Homo sapiens: one gene and its partner. The gene in region 2 interacts genetically with the main gene of each other region. Each region holds a gene or a part of one and is shown on either strand. Other genes may lie near its edges.

The links.
Region 1: changes in MTFMT (region 2) and STK11 together harm fitness more than expected from each alone (negative genetic interaction), as found in Homo sapiens cells (one large-scale study listed by BioGRID).

What each region holds. Positions count from the first base shown.
Region 1 is NC_000019.10:1,208,778-1,212,590, reverse strand, and holds part of STK11 (serine/threonine-protein kinase STK11), read right to left. Parts: intron 1-3,813. UniProt on the Homo sapiens protein: Tumor suppressor serine/threonine-protein kinase that controls the activity of AMP-activated protein kinase (AMPK) family members, thereby playing a role in various processes such as cell metabolism, cell polarity, apoptosis and DNA damage response.
Region 2 is NC_000015.10:65,019,327-65,023,139, forward strand, and holds part of MTFMT (methionyl-tRNA formyltransferase, mitochondrial), read right to left. Parts: intron 2,291-3,813; coding exon 2,188-2,290; intron 947-2,187; coding exon 871-946; intron 1-870. UniProt on the Homo sapiens protein: Methionyl-tRNA formyltransferase that formylates methionyl-tRNA in mitochondria and is crucial for translation initiation.

The DNA of each region.
Region 1 (3,813 bases), on a different chromosome or scaffold from region 2:
CCGTCTCAAAAATAAATAAATAAGTAAATAAAGGTGAACGTGGCGAAGCAGTGGCTCATACCTGTAATCCCAGCACTCTGGGAGGCCCAGGCAGGCGGATAGCTTGAGTCTAGGAGTTTGAGACCAGCCTGGACAACATGGCGAAACCCCATCTCTACAAAAAACTAGTCGGGTGTGGTGGTGCACATCTGCAGTCCCAGCTACCTTGGGGGCAGGAGGGTCACCTGAGCCCAGAGCTATGATTGCGCCACTGCACTCCAGCCTCGGCGATACAGTGAGACCCTGTCTCCAAAAAAAAAAAAAAAAAAAAAAAAAAAGGTGTTAAGAAAATTGAGTCCAGTTTGAGCAATACGGTGGCGTTTGTGGGATATACGGGCCGTCCAGCCGCCTCACTGATTCCCCGACAGCTACAGCAGCGCCCCAGATCCTGAGAGAGGAACCAACATTCCAGGCCTGCCCCAGCTGGCTGGGCACCGGAAGCCCACTGTGTGCACAGCCCAGAACCCCCAGTGGACCCATTACCCCCGCTGTTCTGCGGCTGCCCAGCCCCTGAGCTCCCTCTGGGTCTCAGAGCTCTCCCTCCCGCTGCCCAGAGAGGGGCACAAACAGAGGCCTCGAGGACACCCAGGCCTCACATGGCTGGCGCAGGGGCCTCAGCAGATGCTGGAACCCCATAAAGGCCGCCTGGGATGTAAAGACCTACAAAGTCCAGGACTGACTCCCAGCTCGCGAAAATCCTCTTTACCATAGGTCCAAGCATCTGCCAATCATCGCCGCAACCAGGCACACTGAGTGCCGCCCACCTCCCACCTCCTGGCTGGACACCGCGGGGGCGGTGCGGATGGGAGAGCCACAGCCCGGATCTGGGCCCGTTTCCTACGGCAGCAGTGATTTTCACATTTCCAAACAGGTAGAAAGAAAAGATACGAAAGCACAGTGTTTTGCAACAGGTGGAAGTGACAGGAAAGGGCAGGGCCGTGGGACACCGCCAGGCTGTGCGCTCACGGCAGCCCTGGGTGCCTCTGCGGAGGCTCCACAAGGCGGGCAGACTCCCTGCCTTCGAGCCCACTCTCACTGGGGTGGAAAGGGGGAGGGAGGCATGGCGGCCTTCTGCCTGCACCCCCCCCCCCAGAACCCCACTGTGGGCTCCGCAGCAGCAGCTAGCCGTGCTGTCCCCCGAGAAGCACGGGGAGTCGGGCTGGGCACAGGCGACCCTTTCCAGCCCTTCCCTGCTCCACCCTAGGAACCCACTGCCTACCAGAAACAGCCTATGGCACTGATTTTATTTTAATTAATTGTTTTTTTGAGACACAATTTCGCTCTTCTCTCCTAGGCTTGCCCAGCCTGGAATGCAATGATGCGATCTCGGCTCACCGCAACCTCCGCCTCCCAGGTTCAAGCGATTCTCCTTGCTTCAGCTTCCCCAGTAGCTGGACTACAGGCGCGCGCCACCACGCCTGGCTAATTTTTGTATTTGTAGTAGAGACGGAGTTTCGCCATATTGGCCAGGCTGGTCTTGAACTCCTGACCTCAGATGAAGTAGCTGGGATTATTGGCATGTGCCACCACACCTGGCTAGTTTTTCTATTTTTAGTAGAGAGAGGGTTTCACCATGTTGGCCACGCTGGTCTCAAACTTCTGACCTTGTGATCAAACCGCCTCGGCCTCCCAAAGTGCTGGGATTACAGGCGTGAGCCACCACGCCCGGCCCCAGCCCTTTTTTTTTTCGAGACGGAGTTTCACTCTTGTTACCCAGGCTGGAGTGCAATGGCATGGTCTTGGCTCACCGCAACCTCTGCTTCCCGGGTTCAAGTGATTCTCCTGCCTCAGCCTCCAGAGTAGCTGGGATTACAGGCGTGCGCCACCACACTCAGCTAATTTTGTATTTTTAGTAGAGACAGGGTTTCACCATGTTGGTCAGGCTAACTCCCAACCTCGGGTGATCCACCCGCCTTGGCCTCCCAAAGTGCTGGGATTACAGGCATGACCGAACATGCCCAGCCCTCTTTTTAACTCATTGATGCTTTTTGGAACTTTCCTATTTCTAATAAGATTATACTTTTTGCCGGTGAGAGCGGGACAAGGCATGGACTCCAGGGCTGCCTTTCTGGGAAGGAAGGGAAGAGACGGGACTCACGCCGGCTCCATCTGCCCCAACCCACCCCCCTTGGTGATCGCCCACGCTTTCCACACCAACTGGAGGACCGGACGCCTGAGGCTTGTCTGGAAGGTTCCAGACACTCGCTGCGAGACACAATCTGAGCGGAGTTTATTAAACTTCCCACACACAAAGGAGGCTTTTTCCCTGCAGCGCTGGCAGCAAGGCTGGCCAAGGCCTTGGGCCTCAGGGCTGGGCAGTGGACACCCCTTCTCCTTGACAGCACTCTGCACATGGCAGCCTCCAGTCAGAACACACCAGCTCCCAGAATAGGAGGACCCCCTGGCAGCACCCAGGGGGCTGGAGGAAATGCAGTGGCTCCTGAATCACAGCTGTAAGCGGGGCAGCTCCTGATGGCAGACAGTGACCAGGAAGGGACAGGGCTCACCCCTCATCCCAGGGGGCCCCGCAAGGGCAAAGCCGTTACACACTCAGGGCCAGGATGAAATTGGACGCTGAACACTAGTGAGGGTGCATCACTCACTTCAAGGCAGTGGGGTCAAGCTGTGGGTAGCTGCGACGCACAGTCCAGTCCAGGTCCTGCCAACCCCTCTGCCTCCCTGCCTCCGTGTTCCCTCCCGTTCTCCCAGGCACTGGGCCAGACTAGGTTCCTGCAACCTTCTTGCCTGTCTCCACCAAGACCCTCAGGCTCTGCCCTACCGTTCAGGTGCTCACCTGAGCTCCCAGGACCTCCTCCACTGACTGTTCAGGAAAGCAGGGGGCTCACTCTCACAGTCAGGCTTCCACCCTCCAGCGTCTGTCTTCCCATTGACCCTGCATATACATTTGTCAAAACTCAAGCCAGATTTATTTATTTATTTATTTATTTATTTATTTATTTATTTATTTTTGAGACAGAGTCTCGCTGTGTCGCCCAGGCTGGAGCGCAATGGTGCGATCTCGGGTCACCGCAAGCTCCGCCTCCCAGGCTCCAGCAATGTTCTGCCTCAGCCTCCCGAGTAGCTGGGATTACAGGCACACGCCACCACACTCGGCTAACTTTTGTATTTTTAGTAGAGATGGGGTTTCACCATGTTGGCCAGGCTGGTCTCGAACTCCTGACCTCAGGCGATCCACCCACCTCAGCCTCCCAAAGTGCTGGGATTACAGGCGTGAGCCACCGCGCCCGGCCCCTAAGCGTGGGTTTCTCACTGCTGGGAGAGAGACTGTCACTGGCCCCTTTAGAGGGCACCTGCTACCCCCAGCACAGGCTCTGCCTAGCCCCTGACCAACCCATCTCACAGAGACCAGGCACAGGCTCTGCCTAGCCCCTGACCAACCCATCTCACAGAGACCAGGCACAGGCAACTGCTCCACTGACTCAAGGCACTGGCCACACCTTCTACCCGGGTCCAGACTGGGCACTGAGACATCAGAAAGGCCTCGTGGAAACACACCCTTCCCAGCCGCTCCCATTTAACCCTGACTGCTCCAGCTCCAGAGTACAAACTTCAGAGCCTGTGCCCCTGGTTTCCGCATGTCACAGCCTGCATGCTGATTAAGAAGCGTGCTGGCCGGGCGCGGTGGCTCACGCCTTTAATCCCAGCACTTTGGGAGGCTGAGGCAGGTGGATCACGAGGTCAGAAGTTCAAGACCAACCTGGCCAAGATGGTGAAACCCCGTCTCTACTAAAAAAAAAAAAAAAAAATTAGCTG
Region 2 (3,813 bases):
TCAGCTATATGTTTTACATATTCAAAAAATAACATTTAATCATAAAGAAAAATAAAAAGTAATCCCTAAAATTAAAAACAAACTGAAACAAATGTTTATACTCCTAACTCTACTAAAAAAAACAAAAAAGAAGAAAACAAATGTCACTGAAACACACTCTTTCCAAAAACTTTAAGCCTGAATCCAGCCAAACCTTTAGAACTAATTATAGGAAATATAAGAGATAGGGAACAAGTTAAACAACACTGGAAGAAAACAAATCAAACAACTGGCCTGGTCTCTTCAAAAAGTCAATGACATAGAGAGAGGAAAAAAAGAGGAATTTTTTTTAGAGACTAAAGAGACATAACAACTAATTACAATTAAATCCTAGTTTGAAAAATAAAACTATAAAATAAATTTTTAGACAATTAGGAACACTTAAATATGAACTGAACATTGGATGCTATCAGGAAATTGTTCATTTTTCTTAGGAAAGGCATACTAAACTACTTAGAGATGAAAGATCATGATTCATACTTCCAAATGAATAAGCAGAATTTAAAATACACGTAATAAATACATAAAGAGAAAGAAAATATGGACAAACATTAATAATTGTTGACTCTGGGGTAAACTGGTGTTTATTATACCAGTCTTTCTATTTAATATTTTCAAAATCAAGAAGTTGGAAAAAAATGCTCAATCCTTCATGAGGCTATATGCTAAGAGGGAGAAAGAATGCTTTCTACCATTCTTTGGAAAAGCACACAAAAGTGGGCACTCAATCAAAATTAAGGGAAAAGTACAGCTAAGAAGTCAGAATGTTCAGATGCTATCGTGACAAGCAGAACCTTTAGAAAGATGAGAGTCTCTGCAGCCTTCACTCACCGTAAGTCGCCCCCTCCATTGGCTGCTGCCTTCCATTGCTCAGACTTTCAGGCAAATTTTTCAAAACTGAAATGAGCTACAAAAAAAAAAAAAAGAGTGTGATATATTCAAAATGAAGGGAAGAACAAAAGCAGAAACACATTACAATTCAGCACCATGAAATAACCTATAACTTTTTTTCTTTTTCTTTTTTCAAATTAAAAAAAAAATCTTTACTATTGGCTCTTCAAGGCTGAACCTATAACTTTAAAAGATCTATGTGGCAGGGTAAGGTAGTACATTGGCTTAAGCTGTGAGGATAGGTGTCTACTTGGGGAAACCTCAGTAGAGATTCTGCTTTCTGTAGAGTACAGGTCATTGATTCACTTCTAGAGAATGCTGTGGAAGCTTTGGCATCAGGATAGCCCGGGCTTGGCTATACACACTCTCACCCCATGGGGGCCAAGGCAGTGAAACCTCACAGGACAATGTACTATGGAGTCACCCAGCTCTGGGTTCAAGTCCTAGTTCTACCACCTACCAGCTGTCTCATTGTGGAAAAGTTATTTAGCTTGTCTCTGGCCTTCAATGTCATCATCTGTGAAACAATCAACAGCAACAACTACCTCAAAGTTGAGAGGGTAAAAAGAAAAAGTCCATACAGTATCTAGAACAGTTGTAGAACACAAGCCAATGTTCAATAAACGGCAGTCACTATTATAAGATCATTTGTGAGGTAAGTGCCTAGAATAGGAAATACCATCTCTACAGGTGGGAAAAAAATATTCCTCTGTATAAAATTAACCCGTTCATATGGAAAACATAAGTTTAGTCATTAAACATTTACCCAGACTCTACTCATGCAGTTTCAATGAATTATATATACAAAGCCACAGAAAAAAGAAGGATCATCTATAGGTAGAATGGTCAGCAGAATTCTAGTGCAAATGACTGAAGCCAGGCAAAGAAATGGAAGGAAAGCTAAGAGTCGCTTAGAAAATTGCTGTTAGTTCATTCTGACAGGGATGCAAGGTATACATACCAGAGTGCGGAGAGTGAAATTGAGAAGAATAGTCTAAGACCTCACTATGGCATGTAGTAGGTCATGTAAGATCACCTGTTTCACTTGAAAGCCTTTATTCAGTACTTACTCTTTGTAAATTCTCAAAGATTTACATGAGATCACAAATGCCAGGCTAATTTTTAGGAAGCCAAAGATAGAAATTACTCTTTTTTGTTTTTAAGAAAATTAGAAGTCACAAAATTGTTCTTCTTTTTATAACCACTTAGGAAACCCACTAAATGAGTAAAAAGCAGTAGGATATTGGGGAATTATACCATGTTGGCACCCAGTCTTGACAACACTGCTTCCAATTCCTTTGCAGTGCTCTTGGGTGGCACAGGAACAGTTTCTTGTTTGAGAATTGGGCCTACATCAAACCTAGCAAAAAATCAAAAGCAAATAATGACAATGATTACCATTTCCTGAATCAATGTTTGTCTACACACAAAAAGATACAAGCTGGGTACAGTGGTCTGCATGCCTATAGTCCTAGTTGCTCAGGAGGCTGAGGCAGCAGGATTGCTTGATCCCTGGAGTTTGAGACCAGCCTGGGCAACACAGCTAGCCCCTATCTCTTAAAAAAAATAAATAAAGATAGTTTATCACTGGCTATTAATTTGGCTGTTAGACATTAGCAAGGAAGATATGTCAGTTTGAAAGACGGGAGAACAAAATATGGCCTGTGTTTAGAGTCTAAATTTATTTTTCCCTAAAGCAAAGAAACGATACAGTTGCATATCAGGAATTTAATTACAATTACAGAAAAATTATATCATTAGTAATAGCATGAAAAAATCTCTATTTGTATATGAAAAGCATAAGGCAAAGAATTTATTTTCCATGGAAGTACAGTTAGGAAGTTCATAATTATTTATTTCTATAGTCCCTTCCTCAAAGGATAAGAGTTTTGCCTAGATTATCACCATAGGTGATTATAAGTAGGGCCAGGCGTAGTGGCTCATGCCTGTAATCACAGCACTTTGGGAGGCCAAGGTGGGTGGATCACGAGGTCAAGAGATCCTGGCCAACATGGTGAAACCCTATCTCTACTAAAAATACAAAAAATTAGCCGGGCATGGTAGCGTGTGCCTGTAGTCCTAGCTATTCGGGAGGCTGCAGCAGGAGAATCGCTTGAACCTGGGAAGCAGAGGTTGCAGTGAGCTGAGATCACCCCACTACATTCCAGCCGGGGTGACAGAGTGAGACCCCGTCTCAAGAAAAAAAAAAAAAAGTAAATGCAAGTATATTTGCATTCCCACAAGTCTGACATTTTATATCAAGCTCTGTAAACACTGGTCATAGGTTTTCATGAGCAATATGCTTTATTTAATTTTTTTTTGCTTTTTGTTTTTGTTAATTCTATTTCTAACCTAGGAGCTTTAGTAAAATGTTTATTGTGAAAAATTGCAAACATTCACAAAAACGGAGTGAACAGTCTAATGAATCATCATATACACATCATTCAGATTTTTTTTTTTTTTTTTTTGAGACAGGTTCTTGCTCCGTCGCCCAGGCTGGAATGCAGTGGTGCGATCTTGCCTCACTGCCGCCTCAACCTCCTAGGCTGAAGAGATCCTCTCACCTCAGCCTCCTGAGTAGCTGGGACTACAGGTGTGTATCACCACACCTGGCTAATTTTTTTATTTTTTATATGTTGCCCAGGCTGGTCTTGAACTCCCAGACTCAAGTGATCCTCCCACCTCGGCCTCCCAAAGTTTAGGATTACAGGCGTGAGCCACCATGCCTGGCTCAGATTTTAGAACTACCAAAGTTTTGCCACTCTTGTCTCATCTACTCTCTCTCTTGTTTTCTGAAGTAAGTTAAAGCAAATCCCAGATACCACGTTGTTCTTGCGAACTTGTGAATTATTCTTTTCTAAGGGGAAATTAGGTGGTAACAGG